Homo sapiens: one gene and its partner. The protein of the gene in region 1 interacts with the protein of each later gene in a pairwise test. Each region holds a gene or a part of one and is shown in the gene's direction. Other genes may lie near its edges. The genes, in order: TSPAN33 and KCNK5.

Region 1 (10,568 bases):
AAACCTCTCTCTCCACCACCTCAGAGAGGATGGGTTACTGGCATCATCTCTTCCTTTTGCAGGCCTCATCTACCCCCACCTCCACCCCCCCAAAGTCTAGGAAGAATGGCCTCCAGGTGCAGATGTCTTTCCCATCCCAGCACTGCCCCAAACTTTGTCCCCTCCCTGCCACCCTTCTCAGGACCAGACTTCACCCCTGGAGCCTGGCAATCACCAGTGTCTTTAAACAGGACCCCGTGTTGGGCCGGAGGGCCAGGGGTCCTTTCAGAATCTTCTGCTTGGGGTGGAAAAAGTATTGGGCTGGGACTCCGGACACCTGGATTCCCATCCCACTCTGCCGTTCATTGTTGACTTGACCGACCTAAGCATGTATGTTCATGTCTGCAGGCCTTGACTCCCTCCCCCACAAATCCAACCCAGTGTGATCAGGGGTGGCAGAAAGACTGCTGAAGCTGAGAATTGAGCTGAACCAGATCATGCAATGCCAGCTCGACCCTGTTTCCTGGCTAGAGAGTCCTGGAGGTCCTGGGGTGTGAGAACATAGGGACATCCTTCCCCCATTCACCTCCTCTTCTGGCTCCTACCACACCAGAGCTGCTGCTTCTGGAGCCCACCATCCTTGCCCACTTCAGCTGGAGACCTAAAGTTCAGACTTGCAGGAGGGAAGAATTGAGTCTAAAATATGTTTCCTAGGGGAGGGAGCAGAACAGACATCTAAGCCATTTGCTGGAAAGGTTTCACAGGGCCCGTGGGGTGAGGTGCAGACACAAAGCCCATAAGTGCTGGCCTGTTGGGACAAATGAGAGAAATCCCATAGGGTGGTGATGACAGCGCACTCAGCCATCCTACTCCTGGGGAAAATGAAACTTGTGCTCCTATCAAATGCTCAGTTGTAAAACTGGAAAAAAATTTTAGAAGACATCTTGTCCAGCATCTGTGTTTATGTCTATAAAATGTAGAAAACTAAAGCACAGAGATGTTAAATGTTTTGTCCAAGGTCCAACAGCTGGTTAGCAGGCTTGGTCTGGTGACCTTTCTACTGAACCACAGTGCCGCTGGGGGAAGTCCTCAGCACAGATGGCTGCTGCTATAGCTGGGGTATGGGCAGTATTAGTAGTTAACCAGTCAACCCAAGTTCCCATAGTCTAGGTTCTGCTTCAGCTGGAGGTTAGGGAAAAACACAAGAAAATCCCTTACCACTCTACCAGTGCTGGGGGATGTACTAAGAGACTCCCCACTTAGGGGCAAGTATCAGTGAAGTCTCTGTGCTCACTGAGTGTGCCAGGCCAGTGACGTGACATCCTCGGAGCCAGCACTAGCATTTCAGGGACTTTAGGTCGTCACTCTGACTTCCTTTATCTGCCGAGACTGTCTCCCTTGGAGCCATTGGTACCTCACCCTTGTCTGTGCTCGCCAGTGACAACAGCTGGGTGCATCTGTTACACTTGTGTTCCTGGTCATTTTTTTTTTCTCGAGCTTCCCTACCCCCTACCTCCACCCTACCCCCCTTTTATCGGACAAACGACTTTGAGAGATCTCAGCCAGGAGAGAGTTTGGCTCCACAGACCCATTTACCTTGGTAAAAATGCTTCATTCAAGGTCAGAAGACGTGGGTGGCCAAGCTAGCACCACCCCAAATTAGAATAGAGCCCCTTCTTGGCCCTACAGTAGACTCATAAAAAATCAGAGGCTCTAGAAATAGCACACTGAAAGACAAGAGGCTCAGCATCTTTTTGGCACCAACTTACTGTGTGACCCTAAGCCAATGTATCTGTCTCTCTGACCTTAATCTTTCTCCTCTAAAGGAGAAACAATTTCTGCCTCAGTGAACTATTTAAGGATGAATGAATCATTTTGGGGACTGTTTTCTTTCTTCAAGACCTAGAGCTGGATCTAAGGATGAATCTCCCTGTGTCCTGATTGCCCTTCCTAGGGGACAGTACTTTTCAGGTGTTATTGAATGTCCCTTCTCCCCCAAACCCAGTGCTGCACAGGTATATTCATACAAGAGCAGCTGGAGAGAAAATGCTGCCTCCCCAGATCAGGGGGCCATCTTTCTTCCTAGCTCCTCTTCAGGGACTGGTTCCCATGCTTTCTTTTTTGTAGACTTCCACCATCCTAATCAAATTCTGCTCTTCTGCCCAGGAAGCACCTATGGATGAGATGATGGTCAGCCCACACCCTTTGCAGGCAGAGTGCATGCTCTGGCCGGCTTCTGGAGCTGCCGCATGGCAGTGGTTATTGTGTCTGTGCCTGGAACCCACTAGGAAGGTGTCCGGCATCCTCTGGGCTCTGAATAGTGGTGCTGGTGGTGATGGTGGCTACGTCTGCTGTTGCTCTAGAAGCCCTGACTCTTGGGGCATTTGGAGTCTGACTCAGAAAACTAATGAATTTTGGGGGACTGGGACCAGTTCCTACTGTTCATGTTTCAAATCTCACTTCCCCTTTGACCTGGGAGTTCTGATTTTCTTCCCAGAATCATGTTGCTGGGTTACTGACTGTGGGGATTCCATGGCCTGGAGTAGCTGCTCTAAGATCCTAGATGTTGCATTTAAATCAGTTAGGGTGGCTACAGAGCAGCTGCCTCTCCTCACCTCCCTCTGCAGGACAGCTCCGTGCAGATATTGGGGTGGTGCCTGCTTTCTCAGCTTGGCCATGTGTTGTCAGGAATATTCAGTGCCGCCCACCTCCTTCCTCGCTGGTCCTTTTCCCACTCAGGGCAGCAGTTGGCTGGCTTTTGAGTCAGGCAGAGCCCAGAAGCTCAGACCTCCAGCCCCTGTGTCTCAGCCCAGGCTTCCCTAGCAGCCATGCCTCAGGGCTCCCATGGCACCTTCTGTATTCTTCTATTGTCACATCCCTTACCTGTGCTGCAATTGTGTTTACTTCTCCGTCTCCCCCTCTAGACTTCGGGCTCTCGAGGGTGGGCACGGCCCTATTCACTTCTGGATCCCCAGTGCCCAGCTGTGTTTGGCATAAATTGGGTGCTTACTGAATGTTTATTGGATGGTGAGTGAGAGAGCAAACCCCACAGGGTAGAGGCTTGATGCCCATCCTCCCTTCCTCATGGACACTGGCCTGTCAAGATGCAGCTCAACCTGGGGTCCTTGAGCACTCTTGGTGATGAGGTACCCAACTGTGTTCTCCTCTGTGGTGGGTCTGGCGGCCTGGCAACCCTCCACTTAAGCCAGGTCAGAAACATGGCAGCCATCCCCTCCTCAGAGCCACACGTACTTACTGCCTACAGCATCTGGATTTTCTCACTTCCACTGCCACATATATGCACCCTTGTCCAGGTCTTCCCTAGGCTGAGCCAAGCCACCAGTGGGGCATCTTCTTCAAGAAATCCACTCTCCCATCCAGGACTACTGTATTGGAGTCCTTGGGCACTCAGAATCACCCAGGCCACTCTCAGCACCATTTCTTTTCGTCTGGCTCAAAAACCATGAGGAAGTAACCAGGCATCAAGCCAGGCAAAAACCTCTTCTAAGTGGCAGGGGCCCTTTCTGCCATCCAACCCCCTCATCCTATACTTCCAAATACACTAGGAGGCAGAGCCCACCACCTCCCTCCTCCACCCCCGCCGTCTTCCCCATAGACTTGGCTGGCTTCCATAACTGAAGACAGATGCTTTTTATAAAAACAACGAAAATTACAAAATATGGGAAATGAAGACAAGAACCATCTCCTTTGCTATGCAGGTCGCGTGCACACTTCTTAACTTCCCAGCAGCTTTGTTTGCCCTGTACCAAGTAGAAAACCATAAACGTCAAGCAGCCTTTAAAAAGGAAAAAAGAAGGCTGGGCGCGGTGGCTCATGCCTGTAATCCCAGCACTTTGGGAGGCCGGGGCAGGTGGATCACCTGAGGTAAGGAGTTCGAGATCAGCCTGGCCAACATGGTGAAACCCCATCTCTACTAAAAATGCAAAAATTAGCCAGGTGTGGTGGTGCACACCTGTATTCCCAGCTACTTCGGAGGCTGAGGCAGGAGAATCACCTGAACCTGGGAGGCAGAGATTGCAGTGAGCCGAGATTATTACATTCCACGCTGGGCAACAAAAGTGAAACTCCGTCTCAAAAAAAAAGAAAAAAGAAAACATAGAGTGCCTCTCAGATCTTTTTAGGAGGCTAGTGCTGGGCCAGTCCCTCCGGGGCTTTGAGTTTGAATGGTTATTTACTGCAAGCCCTTGCAGACCTCCCTTCCTCTTTCTTAACCTTGGAAGAACAAAGCCAGCCGTGGCCTGAGGAAGATGCCAAAGGCTTGGCCCCGGACATTGTTGAGGAAGGAGCCCTGTGGACTCCTCCACTCCAGGGGGACAGTGTCCCCCAATCCAGAGGGAGAGCGCTGACAGCCAGCCTCCCATGGACAGCCGCCACCTCAGACACCCATAACAGCAGCGCCATGGAGAGCACAGAAAGACCAGTATGTGAAGGTCACGGGCAGGGAGAGAGGTGGCCCTACTCCGGGGCCACAGGCTGAAAGCTCTTTGGCTTCATCCAGATATAAGGGTAGGGAGGACTGAGAAACCAGAGGTGGAGACCACTGCCTTGCCCACTTCCCTCTGGGCAGGGACAGGGTTTTGATTGCCACACAGGGAACCACTTTACCCTCAGCTGTCTCCACCATCACCTTCAAAACAGGAGGGAAAGAGATTCTAAGGAGGGGGTGCGGGCCCTGAGACAGTGGGGCTCCACTGCTTCTTGCAGCCTGGACTTTGGACTATGGAAGACAGACAAGGCTAGGGCTTTCCCTGGAGGCTACGCCTGCTGGTGGCCCCACTGTGGCAACGCCATGCCTTCCCTTTTCAGAGTGCTGTTCCAGAGACTTCCCTCTGAGCCACCTCCTGGGCCCTGCTGGCACCCTGTCCCCGCCGCCAGCTGCAATCTTCCTTCCCCTGCCTGAAAACCAGCCCATTTGGAGATTATCAGCTGCTCCCCCAAGGGAACCACAAGCAGCTGCTTCCCATCTCCCATGATGGCTGATGTGAATAGGCAAAATCCTGGGGGTACTGGGAGGCAGAGATAGGAAGGCAGCCAAGTGGCCAAGCTCATAAGGCTTTGGGGACATCCAGACCTAGGTTCCATTCCCACTTCAGCCGCTCACTAGCCATGTGAACTGAGGAAAGTTGCTGGAATTCTCTGAACATCAGCTCTATAAAATGGAGATCCTAATGCCCTCTTGGGTTTGTGGTCAGAATTAAATGAGACAGTGTTTAGCCCAGCGCCTGGTCCTTAGCACTCAACAAAAAGTACTGCCACTGCTGTCCCTGTAAATGCTCCTAGAGGTCACCTGCTGGGGGTGGGCGTGGAGAGTGAGGCTGAGCGCTCCTCCAGGGAGGAGGAAAGAGAGTGGCAAGCAGACAGGGACTGGCTAGGGAAGGGCCAGCCTTTGCTCAACCCTCTTTGCTCACATTCTCACCATAACAAAGGAAAACCAAAAACAAAGGAAGAAAATCAAAGAGAAAAGAAAAAAAGCTAAGCAGGAGACAATCATTATTGGTAGCTTTATATTTTTTAGTTTATGGAGATACTTCCTATATATCCCATGAACAGAGCTCCACTGTTGTCTCCTGGGCTTCCCTAGCTCTGCTTCTCAAGGCTTGTCACACCACCTTGGCCTTTTAAAACTTTTATTTACGTATTTATTTGTTTATTTGTTTGTTTGTTTAGACATGGTGTTGCTCTTTGACCCAGGCTGGAGTGCAGTGATGGGATCACAGCTCACTGCAGCCTCGACTGCTTGGGTTCAAGCAATCGTCCCACCCCACCCTGCTGAGTAGCTTGGACTACAGGCATGCATCACCATGCCCAGCTAATTTTTTTTTAGAGACTGGACTTACTGTGTTGCCCAGACTGGTCTTCAAATCCTGGCCTCAAATGATCTTCCTCACTTTGGCCTCCCAAAGTAGTGGGATTACAGGCATGAGCCACCATGCCTGGCCCTACCTTGATCTTAAATGCAATCCAGTAGAGATGGACTCTGGGAGCTAATTTGCCTGTAATTATTGGCATTTGGGCATAAGAGCCAGGAGAACAACCTTTGTTTAGGACCTCAAGTTGAGGCCCTGCAACCTTTCCTCTCCTATTACTGATGGCCCTGAAGTACTGTCTTGTGGGCTAGAATAAGGGTTTCTCCTTTTAAACATCAAATCATGACTATTTTTTCCCAATTTGCAAGAAAAAAAGTCAAGATAAGAAAATTTTCTTCATTTTCTCCTTTCTCCCATGAACATTAGTACCTGCAACTGCTTATCTGCCTGCAAGTGCTAACAAAAGGCAAGCAGAAGAGGACAAGTAGCAACTATTATGGAAAACTAGGAAACAATTTATTTAGAGTATGCCTGCGTTGTTTTATGAAACGCAGAGACATACACCTAGCAGCCACATCTCTTAGTAAAATTGTTCCTTAGTTCTGTAGTAGAAATTAATATGTTTGCCTCCTCACATGATACACTGAGATGGACACAGCAGTATCTGTGTAATATTCCTGTCAAATATGTGTAATCTGAATCTGTGAGGAAACAAACAAATAAATCCAAATCGAGGGACATTCTGCAAAACAATTGGCCGGAACATGAAAAATGTCAGTGTCCAAAAAAATGTCAGAACAAGTGTTGGGAAGGATGTGAAGACACTGGAACCCTCACACTTGGCTAGTGGGGAAGTAAAAAGGCACAGCCGCTGTGGAAAACAGTTTGGCAGCTCCTTAAAGAATTAAACATAGAATTACCATATGATTCAGCAATTCCTAGGTATAGAGAACATTGAAAACAGGTATTCAAACAAGACCTTTTACATGAATGTTCATAGCAATACTATCCACAGCAGCCAAAAGGTGGGAGCAACACAAATGTCTACCAATGGAGGCATGGAGAAACAATTGTGTTACAGTCACACAACCAAGTATTATTCAGCGATAAAAGGAAATGAAGTTGGCAGGGCACGGTGGCTCATGCCTGTAATCTTTTGGAGGCTGAGGCGGGCAGATCACTTGAGGTCAGGAGTTCGAGACCAGCCCAGCCAACATAGGGAAATCCCGCCTCTACTAAAACTACAAAAATTAGCTTGTTGTGGTGGCATGCACCTGTAATCCCAGCTACTCAGGAGGCTGAGGCACAAGAATCGCTTGAACCTGAGAGGCAGAAGTTGCAGTGAGCTGAGATTGCACCACTACACTCCAGCCTGGGTGACAGAGTGAGACTCCATCTCAAAAAACAAACAAACAAACAAACAAACAGGAAATGAAGTTGTAACACATGCTACAACACAGATGAATCTTGAAAACATTCTGCTAAGTGAACCGAACGCGGGTGGCTCACACCTGTAATCCTAGCACTTGGGGAGGCCAAGGCAGGAGGATCACCTGAGGTTGGGAGTTCGAGACCACCATGACCAACATGGAGAAACCCCATCTCTACTAAAAATACAAAATTAGCCAGGTTTGGTGGCACATACCTGTAACCCCAGCTACTCGGGAGGCTAAGGGAGGAGAATGGCTTGAACCCGGGAGGTGGAGGTTGCAGTGAGCCGGAGATTGCGCCACTGCACTCCAGCCTGGGCAACAAGAGTGAAACTCCGTCTCAAAAAAAAAAAAAAAAAAAAAAAGAAAAAGAAAAAGAAAACATTCTGCTAAGTGAAAGAAGCCGGACACAGAGGGTCACCTAGTATGTAATTCCAATGACAGGAAATGTCCAGAATAGGCAAATCCATAGAGACTGAAAGCAGATTTGTGGTTACCAGGGGCTGGGGGCGGAGGACAGGGTGATGGGAATGGGGAGTGATGGTTTAATGGGTACAGGGTTTCTATTTGGGGTGATGATAAAGCACTGCACCCTGATGGTGGTGATGGTTGCACAGCCATGTGAATGTACTAAAGGCCACTGAACTGTTTACTTTAAAATGTCTAAAATGGTACATTTTGTGTCACATGTATTTTACCATAAATTTTAAAGTCAGTGTCTTAAAGACCAAAAACAAAGGAAGAAAATTAAAGAGAAAAGAATTAAAGCCAAGAGACTGTTCCAGGCTGAAGGAGAGTTAATCTCTAAATGCATGATCCTTGATTGGATCCTGGATAAGAAACAAAAAAAAGGTTACAAAGGACATTTTGGGGATAATTGGGGAAAGTTACATATGGACTGTAAATTAGGTCACAGTAATAGTGTATTAAAGTTTAAAAAAGATCAGTTGCAGTGGCTCATGTCTGGAATCCCAGCACTTTCAGAGGCCATGGCGGGTGGATCACTTGAACCCAGGAGTTCAAGACCAGCCTGGGCAATATGGTGAAACCCTGTCTCTACAAAAAAATTTAAAAATTAGCCCAGTTGGTGGCATGTGTCTGTAGTCCCAGCTACTCAGGAGGCTGAGGCAGGAGGATTGCTTGAGCCCAGGAGGTCAAGGCTATAGTGAGCCCTTGATTGTGCCACTGTACTCCATCCTGGGTGACAAAGCAAGACACTGCCTCAAAGAAAAAAAAAGAAGAAGAATATGACAAAATCTATAATGTACACCAACAGAGCACTGTGACTTCCCAGTGCTCTGTCACTTGAACAATTTTAAGATCCACTATCTTAGCCAAGCATGGTGGCTCATGCCTGTAATCCCAGCACTTTGGGAGACCAATGAGGTAGGATCACCATATGCCAGGAGTTTAAGACCAGCCTGGGCAACCTAGCAAGATCACATCTATACCAAAAATTTAAAAATCAGGTGAGTGTCATGGCATGTGCCTGTACTCAGGAGGCTGAGGCAGGAGAATCTCTTGAGCCCAAGAGGTTGAGGCTGCAATGAGCTATGATTGTACCACTGCCCTCCAGCCTGGGCAACACAAGAGTGAGACCTTGTCTGTTGGTGGGGGGAAGAAAAAAAGATCCACTGCCTTAAGTTTTGGTGTGATTGATGGGAAATCACCCAGATTACAGTTTGTAAAACTGTATGCAAGTGAACCCTAGTTTATGAAAATCTGATGTTAAAAAATGTATAGGCCAGGTGTGATGGCTCACGCCTGTAATCCCAGCACTTTGGGAGGCTGAGACGGGTGAATCACCTGAGGTCAGGAGTTTGAAACCAGCCTGGCCAACATGATGAAACCCTGTCTCTACTAAAAATACAAAATTAGCCGGGTGTGGTGGCTCATGCCTGTAATCCCAGCTACTTGGGAGGCTGAGGCAGGAGAATCGCTTGAACCTGGAAGGTGGAGGTTGCAGTAAGCCGAGATCGCGCCATTGCACTGCAGCCTGGGCAACAAGAGCGAAACTCTGTCTCAAAAAATAAAATAAAAAGTATAAACTAACAAATTGGGGTGGGAGGAGGTAATAGACTATTTTTCAAGAACAATTTTACAGAAAAATTGAGAAGATAGTACAGAGATGGACGTTTCTCAAAAAACAAAAAATAGAACTACTAGACAATCCAGCAATCCCACTACTGAGTGTTTATCCAAAGAAAAAGAAATGAATATATTGAAGAGACATCTGCACTCCCATGTTACTGCAGCACTATTCACAATAGCCAAGAAATGGAATAACCTTAAGTGTCCATCTACAAATGAATGGATACAGAAAATATGGTTCATATACATAATGGGATATTATTCAGCCATAAAAAAGCATGAAATCCTGTCATTCGTGACATAGACAGAATTGGAGGTCATTATGTTAAGTGAATAAGCTGAGCACAGAAAGACAAATATTGCATGTTCTCACTCATATTTGAGGGCTAAAAAAGTGAAACTCATAGAGGTAGAGAATAGAATGAGTTACCAGAGGCTGGGATCCAGGGGCAGGAGGATGAAAAGAGGCTGGTTCATAGGTACAAACATATGGTCACATAGAAGGAATAAGTTCTAGTGTTCAACAGCACAGTAGGGTGACTATAGTTAACAACAATATATTGTATTTTTCAAAATAAATTTAAAAGGCTTCTAACACAAATGATAAATGTTCAAGGTGGTGGATGTTCTAAATACCCTGATTTGATCATTAAACATTGTACACATGTATCAAAATATCATATGTATCCCATAAATACATACAATTTACATATATCAATTAAAAACATTTTAAGATAGTATTGAGAGTTCCTATATACCCCATACTCTGTTTTCCCTGTTATTAACACATTAGTATGATACATTTGTTGTAATTAATAGTATTATCATTATGGTCTACACTTTATTGGTTTTTTTTTTCATTTTTATTTAATATCCTTCTGTTCCAGAATCCTATTCAAGATACTACATTACTTTTTTCTTTCTTTTTTTTGAGACAGGGTCTTGCTGTGTCACCCAGGCTGGAGTGCAGTGGCACAATCATGGCTCACTGCAGCCTCAACCTCCTGGGGTCAAGCGATCCTCCTCCCACCTTAGCCTCCCAAGTAGCTGGGACTACAGGCATGCACCACCATACTCAGATTATTTTTATTTTTATTTTTATTTTTTGTAGAGATGAGGTCTACGTTGCCTAGGCTGGTCTCAAACTCCTGAGCTCAAACCATCCTCCCCGCTCGACCTCCCAAAGTTCTGGGATTCCAGGCGTGGCCCACCATGTCCTGCCCTACATTACATTTAGTTG
Region 2 (10,568 bases), on another chromosome or scaffold:
TCACTGTTTTTAGCACTTTCTTAACCTCTGTAAGCCTCAAATCCTCAGTTGCAAAATGGAAAAAAATTATAGTATCTTCCCAGCAAGAATCTGTCCTCTCTAAATGAGCTAAAGGCACATAAAATGCTTTACCCAACTCTTGGCACATAGGAAGCCCTCCGTAAATCACAGCTGCTTTATGGTGACGGTGATGGAGACAGGGAACTCTACTCCGTTCCCAAACAAGAGCTGGGCCTGAGCTTTGTGCAGGCTCCCCTTTTCCCATTACTCTCCAGGCTTGTATGGAAAATGAAAATATTGTCTCGTGTGAATTTGGGAGCCAAGTTAAAGAATCCAGCCAGTGAACAGGGGCCGCCTCCTCCCGCGAAAGCTGTTTCCCTAACCCCGAGGACGGGACGCCTTGTCTGACAGGGTGTTTACCTGGCTCTCCCATGTCCCTTCCCCTAACCCAGTGATGGCCTTAGTCCTGGGTCAGCTTTTCTGTTCTGGGAGACCAATTAAAGCCCCCTCCTCTTCCTGCATAATCCCAGCCATGATCAGTGAGGTATCCACAGATACACACAGTGGGAATAGGGAGCTAGCACCCCAAATTCACATCCAGACCTCAGCTCCCTGAGCCTGGCTTTCCTCCTCTGCCAAGTGATGCCTGGCAGAATGACAGGAAGAGCCAGTTAGGTAACGTGTGTAAAAGCCCCGGCGAGGGGTGTCTGACATACAGCAGCACTAGCACAGCTTCTCTCCACCAGCACTTGGGTGGAGCTGAGCTGATTCCCAGGCCAGCTGCTTGGGAACCACAGCAGAGGAGGCAACCGCAAGGGGCAGTGGGGCAGCCCAGGGGCAGGCAGACCCAGGCAGATGGAGGCAGGGAGGCTTGAACTTGCAGACTTGAAACCAGACAGTCTACAACCTAGCCCAGTTCTGCCAGGTAACCAACCTCTCTCCGCCCAGTGGGTGTAATTGCCACCACTGGGTCTTTGCAAGGAATGAGTAGTGCTTGCAGCCCCGGGGAGTTAGGGGCTCTCTCCAGTGCCTCCTTTGCCCGCCCCTTGTTGGGCAACCACAGAGGGATACTAGAAGTCATGGGGAAAGCACATAATGCTGTGGCTGCCTGATAAGCCAGGGCCTGAGGCTGCCAGCTGGTCCCCAAAGGGCACACCATCAGTGGGGTGAAGGGTAGAAAGCCCAGCTCTTCCACCTCTCCCCACTCCCAAACTTAATGCCTTCTTCAGTTACCCTGTTTTGCCAGTTCTTTTGTTTGATGTCTCCTTAGCACTTACTAAATGATTCCCAAATCACAGGTTACCTTTGGCACTAGCATTTCCCAGGGGGAGCATTTTTGGCCTTGTGGGTGTGGTTGTCCTGTGAATTGCAGGGCATTTAGCATCTCTAGCCCCTTGCCTTCTCAATGCCAGAGCATCTCCCATCACCCATTAGAATAAACATAAGAGGAGGGCAGGGATTCCGTCCGTTCACTGCAGTATACTCACTGCCTAGAACAGTGCCTGGTACATGCAACATTCCTCCTTAGAAAGCATTTCCAGACACTTCCAAAAGGCACTACCACCCCAGTGGAGAACCCCTGTTCCAGACATACCTTCCACAACACCCTTGATGGATGCTGGCTACCCTGGTCTAAATACTTTGCATTATCAGAAATTGATTACTACAAGGAGTAGCCCTTTGTAGACTCATTATCCAAAACAGCCACCCCATCTCCCCCTTGGACTTTGGCCTGTTGGTTAGCATATCATGTGAAGTCTGACACCCAGAATGAAACAAGGTGCCCCATATATGGCCTGACCCTGCAAGCAACAGTGGGCTTGTTACCTCCCAGCCCTGGATAGACCTGGAGTTGACATAGCCTGAGATTGCATTTACTTTTCTTGTGACAGCAGGACAGTAGGATTACTGTTTGTTGATCCATGGTCAGCTAATATCCAGGGACTTTTCCCTTCAATCCTCTACCAGTCTTTTCCAATCCAAAGTATAAGACTTAAACATTTAAGTGGATACTTGTATGTTGTTGATTTTGGCCCCTATATCCAGCCAGATGATTTTGAATCTTGATACTGCCATTGCTATGTGTTAGCTATCTTCCCATCCCATCCTTATCCCCAATTTTGCATCCACTGCACATTGGATTAGTAAACCATCTCTGTCCTCACTGTGCTGTGGTTTAAAATATTGAAGAAAACCAGGCCTTAAGCATGATGGTGGAGACTCAGTCTGGGTTGATAATGATCAATACCTCCTAGGGTTGTTTGTCTGCCTTTGAATGGACCCAATTAATCCTGGCTCCACTGACATTTCTGTGTCTTGTCCACATGAATTTCTTTAATCCCATCTGTTAGCTGCCTTGCTGATATCTAGATGGATTACATTCCACAGAACTTCAAGGCTTTGCAACCCTTTGAAAAGGAGATGCACTTAGCTGAGCATGACTTGTTCTGGGTGAATCTGTGCTAGTTTCTAGTGCCCACTACTTCCTCTTCTGCATGTTCCAAACATTCTCCTCTCCCCATTTTGAAGTTTGCAAGAGTTCAGGTTTGTTTTCTGAATTTCTAGAATCCACTCTTTTCCTTTTTGTGAAAAATGGGAACAGCTTGTCTTCTGACATCTTTCCTGTTCCCCATGATTCCATGGGGATGACCAGAGGTGGTGCTGCAGCCTCACCTGTGATCAGTGATTCAATTATCATTTCAAGATGTTCTTGTATGTTCTTATATACTCTTTTCTTGTAGGCCGGTCCCATTCAAGATCGATATCTGAGGTAGCAAAGGTAGATGCCAAAGGAGAGCTGGGTGGTTCCGCTTTCTCTGCCATCTGTTTAACATTAACGTGGCCCTGGTACTTCCTCATTCTCTTGCTCCAAACAGATTTGATGTTTTCAGAAACCCATTGGATGGTCCTTAGTATTTGTTTTAGCTCTCCTGTTGGCCTGTTAGTATCTAAATGTCCTTTAGCCATTTCACATTGAAATGGTCTGGCCAGCTAGACAGAGAGCTCTCTGAGGGCAGGGGCTGCCTTGGCCAGAGTTTGATGCGATGGTCCCCACTTTCCACTTTGATGCTGCACAGCCTTCGTAGCCTCGGAGATGCTGTGAAATGCCGGAGGAGGCAGCGCAGTGAGCTGTGTGGTTTGATGGTCTGACAGACAAGCGTGCCATCATGGAAAATTCTTTGCAGAGTGTGCAGATCCATTTACGCAGGCCGGCTGCTGCTTCTGCAAATTACACTTTCCTTCAGAACAACCCACCCATGCCCTTTTTTTCCCACCAAACCTCAGTCATGCTCTGGGTAGGTTAGAAACAAGGTTTTTTTTGTCTCCCTCTGTTTCCATCCCTCACTCTTCTGTCTCTTCTCTCTCAGTCCTTGTCTTGGTTTTTATAGGCAATTTGGCTGAATGCCTAGCTTCTGGTCTGGATGGCCTACCCATCTGCAGGCGCTCCTTGGGGACAGGACTTGAGCCCCAGATTTAGAGTCCCTTCTTATGTGACTTCTGGGGTCCAGGCCCTGCCAGCTGATAAAGCCCCACAGATAGGTTGGAGCCAGTGGTGATAGCAGAATTGGGGCCTAGTCAGATGGAAACAGGTTTGCAGCTGTCAGTATTGTAGGAGTAGATAAGTTCCCCACACCTCTGCCCCACCGCTCCTCGCACTCTCCAGGGGGACATCCCATCCCCAGGTGGCCTCTCACCTGCTATCCACAGTTACTGGAAGCTCTTTGGGGATTGATAGCACAGTTATGAGTCACCCTGAAATGTACTCACCCTCTGATCTGTCCCTTCCCAGACAGCTGCTCAGCCCAGGGCAGAGAGAGAAAGGGCTACAGGGAAGGGAGGGAAGTGAGATCCCACAGGGGAGAGGGTACATTAGAGTCCTAGGCTGGGGGAAAGGAGGACCTGCTGATTTGCATGCCCTCCGAGGACAAGTCAACAGGGCACTGAGCTGACCTGAGCAGGTATCCTACAGTAGGCTGAAGGGTATATGGGGGGCCCCTCCCCAGCCAACCCTGAACAAGGACCTGGTCTCTGCAGGTAGAACACCCTCCATGGAGGGCTGGGTGAGGCACAGGGGACCTCCTTGTGTGTGTCTGCCTCACATGTGCTTTTTTTGAGAGGCAGAATTAATCTAGTGCAGTGGTTCTCAAAGTGTGGTCCCTGTCCACAGCATCACCTGGGAACATGTTTAGAAATGTTCCTTCTAGACCTCCTAAATCAGAAACTCGGAGTAGTAGGGGCCAGCAGTCTGTTGAACAAGATTTCCAGGTGATCCTGGTGCATGCTAGTAAGTTGGAGAAGCATTGACTCAGTGAAAGAATGAACTTTGGAGCCAGATTGCCTGGGTTCATATCTTTACCTTGGGTAAATCAGGTAACCTCTCTGATCCTCTATACAATGTTTCATCTGTAACATGGAGACACTGCCACCTTCTTCTTGTGATGACTAAATGAAAATGCTTACAAGGAGTTTAGTGCAGTTCTGTCAATCAGCATCTGTTAAGTGTGGCCTCAGCTCTGACCTTTACTGTTTCTCATTTTAGGTGGTATCTGATGCTGCAGGACAGGGTGTGGCCATCACAGGGAACCAGACCTTCAACAACTGGAACTGGCCCAATGCAATGATTTTTGCAGCGACCGTCATTACCACCATTGGTAAGTCTTCTGGGACCTGTAGGACACCCACATCCATGCCCTAGCTCCTCAGAACCTTTCTAGAAACCCAGCTCTGGTCACTCAGCCCTGTTGGGGGTACAATCAGATCAGTTGCAGGCTATTCTTTTGATACTTTCTTAGGGATTTGTTAAGTCCTTGGTAGCTGATCATGCCTGGGAAGGTTTCCTTGAGTCTTGACCTGGGCTCTTTGAGCAGAAACAATGACACAGCCTCATGGCCAGAGCCATGCAAGAGATTAACCAGACTGCTCATTGCAGAAACCCAGATCATGACTACTTACCAAGCTGGGTGTCTGTTTCAGTTCTCAGGCTGCATAGCCAACCAGTCCAGAAGTTTGGCTCAGAACGCAGCTTCTTCTCTTTCACCATTCTGTCAGCTTGACTGGGCTCAGCTGGCTGGTTCTTGCTTGGGCTCCCAATGCAGTGGCAGTCGAACAATGGCTGGGCTGGAGTCTTCTGAAAGCCAAACTCATCTGATGGCCCAGATGGCTCCTCCCATCACAGATTTGACAGTTGATGCTGGCTGTTGGCTGGGAGCTCAGCTGGGGATGAAAACACAAGGCCTCCGCATGTGTTTGGGAACCAAGGCGAAAAGCAGCAGGCTTCTTAGACCTCACCTGTCCAGCGTCTCTTCCGCTGCCTAGACTGCTTCTGTTGTCAAGCCACTAAAGCCCAGATTCCAAGGGAAGAGGATTAGATGACACCTTGATGTGAGCAGTTGCATAAGAAGGGAGGGAATGGAGGATGGCTATCTTTGGAGACCATCTACCACAGTGCTTCTGGGGAATCTACACAGAGAGCATGTCTTATAACTTGCACAGTGGTACCATATAGACTAGTGGAAGACCTGTTGACCAGGCTTAGTCCCTGCCTTCAGGGAGCTCCTTGTATGATGGAGGAGATACAGCTCATGTCATCATAATTGCTTTATCAATGATCATGATCAGAGTATGATCAAGGGAAATATCATTACTTAAGTACTGACAATAGATCAATATCAATTTATCTTAGAGAACGGGCTGTGTGTGTGTTGGAAGCAAGGCCCACTGGTTTGACCACCCCTCCTGTTCTTGGCCTCACTCTCTCCTTCCTCAGGATATGGCAATGTGGCTCCCAAGACCCCCGCCGGTCGCCTCTTCTGTGTTTTCTATGGTCTCTTCGGGGTGCCGCTCTGCCTGACGTGGATCAGTGCCCTGGGCAAGTTCTTCGGGGGACGTGCCAAGAGACTAGGGCAGTTCCTTACCAAGAGAGGTGTGAGTCTGGTATGTCCCCTACCCTGGGTGTTGGGCAGAGATGGGGGAACCATGACAGGTGAGGGGAGGACAGGAGGCCTCTAGGAATTGGACCAAGGGTGTAAGGACAGATGGCAAGAGGATAGTTTCAGAGCTCCTTGCCCTCCCGGGTCAGGCTGGGTACCCAGCTAGCTTCTCCTCTAGCTGCCTCCCTGGCCCTCTGGGTGCCTTTGCTGGGTTTCCAAGTCTCCACTATTCTCTGACTTGGCCTCCTGCTCCCCATCAGCGGAAGGCGCAGATCACGTGCACAGTCATCTTCATCGTGTGGGGCGTCCTAGTCCACCTGGTGATCCCACCCTTCGTATTCATGGTGACTGAGGGGTGGAACTACATCGAGGGCCTCTACTACTCCTTCATCACCATCTCCACCATCGGCTTCGGTGACTTTGTGGCCGGTGAGTCCCTGCCTCTGCCTCCCACCTCTTTTTCTGCTTCTTTGGTTTCAGTGCAACAGACCTATGTTGGGGGTGCCCTAGGTAGGGTTCCATGTTCTGGGCACTTCTCTTACCCAGTGGGATTCTCAACCCACTCTGCCATTTGCAAGAGGAAACTAAGACCCAGAGTAATGACAAAAAACTCTTTTCTCTCTGGTTCCCTTTCTCAGACATGGCCTTTTTCCTCCTCCTTTCCTCTCTGCTCAGTCTCTGATCTCCTCTCCCTCAGTTCTCCCATGACTCCTGAGCTTGGCTTCATGGGGGACTTGCAAGTAGGGCCTTCTGCCTGCACGGTTGGTACCTGCTACCCAGGGAGCCCCTGAGCCCACCAGCACCCACTCCACGCCCTCAGCAGCCTTTCATCTTTCACAAGAGTGGAGGGAGGTGTCCTGAAGGCATGGCTCAGAGGCCTGGGGCTTTGTTCCTGCTGTAGCAGCTTAAAGACAAGGGAGGCCTTCTCCCCAGCTGCCCTGCCCCCAGCCCTGACACTCCCTCCTACTCCTCCCCTGCTTAATCCAGGGAAGTGATGAGGTTCTTTGGCCCCTTTGTCTGAAGGCCTGTTACCAGCTGGCCCCAGCCACACATGTACTTGTGTTTGTGGCCTGCACAGCATCTTGGTTCTTAATCTTCTTGACACCCTGTTTGACCCTGTTGACCCACCACCCCAGTGACCTCAACTTCTGCTCCAGAGGCCTCTGTTCTGTACCCCCTCCCTTTTGCCCAGAGGGCAGTGGGAGGCCACTAGCCTTGTGCTTGATGTATGTGGCATCTGGGAGCAGTTGGCTGAGTTGGGGGAGGAACAGGAAAGAGAGGCACAAACACTCCCCTGACCCTGCCAAGTCCGGGCCTGCTGTCCTGGGCAGTACATGTGGACAAGGCACAACCCTGCCATTGTCCAGCCCTTGAGGCCCAGAGCAGGCTAAGGAGGTGCCTCTGGTATTAGGGAAATACAGATGTACACTTAGCCATACTTTCTCAGCACCAGCAAGACACCAAACCCTGCCTCAGCTTTCTCTTCTGTAAAATTAGTAAAAATAATAATTACTATTCATGAGTGTTAAGGGTAGGGCCTGGCTATATCAGTGTGTGCCCTCATTACTGTCATCATGAAACTCTGCTTGTGATTGAGAGCCTTGAGCAGGATTAACAGGACCACTCAGGGCACCTGCTATCTGAGCCCGGTCGTGGGAGGAGAACTGACCGGGCTACAGCACCTGGAGGAACCTCTAGTCTGATGAGAGAGGTAGCCCCCTTCCTCCAGGTCCCTTCTGTAAGTTGCTCTTGTATCTAGTCGAGGGGGCAAATGGAATACAGGTCAACATGCCTGTACATGTAGTCGTCAACGACATTTCAAATAATCCTGGAGTGTAGGGGGAACCTTCAGAGCTGTAGGGGGTAAGCCAAGAAGGCTCCCTGCAGCAGGAGGGGGATGTGGAGCAGACAGAGCCCTCCTCCAGGTCAAGGGAGAGCTGATCTGAGGAAGTCAGGGAGGCAGACCAGACCTTCAATGAAAATAAAAATGGTTCAGCGTTTCTTGCCACGGTGGGTGCTTCCTGGGTCATCTCAACCTAACCACCAGCCTTGTTTGTAATCCACCAGTGTGAGTCTAGCCCCAGCTTGGAGGGTGCTGGGGGCTCCCTTGTGTAATATCCATCCATTCCGTTTTTAAGTGAACTGTATCATATACGCAGAACAGCTGGGGATGGTAGAAGAATTAACAGAAAGGCAAATACTCATGAACTGTTTCTTGACCTGTGTGTCGGTTACATTGCCAGTCCCCCAAAGCCCCTTTAGCTTCCTTCAAAGAGTCACTGTCTTGACTTTTTTTTTTTTTTTTTTTTTTTTTGAGACGGAGTCTCTGTCTGCTGCCCAGGCTAGAGTGGCAGTGGTGTGATCTTGGCTCACTGCAACCTCTGCCTCCCGGGTTCAAGCAGTTCTCCTGCTTCAGCCTCCTGAGTAGCTGGCCCGCCACCATACCTGGCTAATTTTTGTATTGTTAGTGGAGCTGGGGTTTTACCATGTTGGTCAGACTGGTTTCGAACTCCTGACCTCAAGTGATCCACCTGCCTTGACCTCCCAAAGTGCTGGGATTGCAGACGTGAGCCACCATGCCTGGCCTGTCTTGACGTTTCTAGTTGAGGAAACCGAGACTCAGAGACAGGCTGGAGACTGGGATGGGGTCATGAATGATGGCAGGCCCAAGCCCTTGAGGAAGATGGGATAGTCCAGGGTCTAGAACAGGCCCCTTTCTATCCCACTGCACCCCCGTCCTGTGCTCTGGCCTGACCCCTGCTCAGATCACACAGCATTGGCCATTGCACATTTCCCGGGCCCTGCTAACTCTTCCTGACCTCTGGACTGCCTGTCCGCTCAGGTGTGAACCCCAGCGCCAACTACCACGCCCTGTACCGCTACTTCGTGGAGCTCTGGATCTACTTGGGGCTGGCCTGGCTGTCCCTTTTTGTCAACTGGAAGGTGAGCATGTTTGTGGAAGTCCACAAAGCCATTAAGAAGCGGCGGCGGCGACGGAAGGAGTCCTTTGAGAGCTCCCCACACTCCCGGAAGGCCCTGCAGGTGAAGGGGAGCACAGCCTCCAAGGACGTCAACATCTTCAGCTTTCTTTCCAAGAAGGAAGAGACCTACAACGACCTCATCAAGCAGATCGGGAAGAAGGCCATGAAGACAAGCGGGGGTGGGGAGACGGGCCCGGGCCCAGGGCTGGGGCCTCAAGGCGGTGGGCTCCCAGCACTGCCCCCTTCCCTGGTGCCCCTGGTAGTCTACTCCAAGAACCGGGTGCCCACCTTGGAAGAGGTGTCACAGACACTGAGGAGCAAAGGCCACGTATCAAGGTCCCCAGATGAGGAGGCTGTGGCACGGGCCCCTGAAGACAGCTCCCCTGCCCCCGAGGTGTTCATGAACCAGCTGGACCGCATCAGCGAGGAATGCGAGCCATGGGACGCCCAGGACTACCACCCACTCATCTTCCAGGACGCCAGCATCACCTTCGTGAACACGGAGGCTGGCCTCTCAGACGAGGAGACCTCCAAGTCCTCGCTAGAGGACAACTTGGCAGGGGAGGAGAGCCCCCAGCAGGGGGCTGAAGCCAAGGCGCCCCTGAACATGGGCGAGTTCCCCTCCTCCTCCGAGTCCACCTTCACCAGCACTGAGTCTGAGCTCTCTGTGCCTTACGAACAGCTGATGAATGAGTACAACAAGGCTAACAGCCCCAAGGGCACATGAGGCAGGGCCGGCTCCCCACCCCACCTTTGATGGCCTCTTCCCCCCTCACCCTAGGGTGTCCCGAGATGACCGGGACGCCTGGCCCCTGGTGGGGGGGCAGCCTCGGAACTGGGAGTGGGGGGCCAGGGGCCTTCCTAACCTTCCATCATCCTCAGCTAGATGTATGCCCGGGACAGGGCCTCTGTTCTCCAGCTGAACCATACCCTGGCTGTGGGGGCATCTGTCCTGAGCTTGGCTGGTGTATCTCACAATGCAAAGACATGCTGGCTGGCGGGACAGGTGGGCAGGACTGACCCTGAGGAGGCCTTGCCTGCAGGGTCTTTGTCTCACCATTTGGTGGAGTATCACACGGTTCTCTGAGGTCTGGGGCCTCAGCTGTTTAAGTTTACCGGTATTACTGAGCTCGGCATTTGGAGAGGGAGCTCTGAAGTGTCTGGGGAGGTACCGCTGTGCGTGGGGTCAGGTGTTTCCGTACCACAGCAGGAGCAGGGCCCGCCCGCATCCCAGCTGTGGGCCTGCCGGTCAGGTCGGGCACCTACTACAAACCGTAGTGGGGTGGAGGCTGCTGGAGGTGGGAGTGAGGAGATGAGGGCAGGGTCTCAAACAGTCCTGACTCACAGGGCCTGGAAACAAGTCCTATGTGGGCCTGGGGCCTGGGGTCCTCATCCTCCTTGTTGGTCTACTCAGGCCCAGCCCAGAGCTGTGTTCCCTGTCTCAGGTCAAGCAGTGGCAGACGCAAGGCTTTCTGTGGGCCCCCAAGTGGTAGGAGGGAGAGTAGCAGAGCATGGGTTACTGGAAGCCGGGACTGCTAGGGCTGGTGGCCAGGGAGCTGCAAGAGTGAGGCTCAGCTCTGGCTGGTTCTGCCCTTACCCCTCCTGCCCGCCTGAGAACTGCACACCCTGCCCGCTGGCCCCAGGACCTGCACTCCCA

The links.
Region 2: the proteins of TSPAN33 (region 1) and KCNK5 interact in binary tests that used the Homo sapiens proteins (3 or more experiments, as listed by UniProt).

What each region holds. Positions count from the first base shown.
Region 1 is NC_000007.14:129,145,481-129,156,048, forward strand, and holds part of TSPAN33 (tetraspanin-33), read left to right. Parts: intron 1-10,568. UniProt on the Homo sapiens protein: Part of TspanC8 subgroup, composed of 6 members that interact with the transmembrane metalloprotease ADAM10.
Region 2 is NC_000006.12:39,189,960-39,200,527, reverse strand, and holds part of KCNK5 (potassium channel subfamily K member 5), read left to right. Parts: intron 1-4,540; coding exon 4,541-4,652; intron 4,653-5,767; coding exon 5,768-5,934; intron 5,935-6,190; coding exon 6,191-6,359; intron 6,360-8,772; coding exon 8,773-9,638; 3' UTR 9,639-10,568. UniProt on the Homo sapiens protein: K(+) channel that conducts voltage-dependent outward rectifying currents upon membrane depolarization. Voltage sensing is coupled to K(+) electrochemical gradient in an 'ion flux gating' mode where outward but not inward ion flow opens the gate.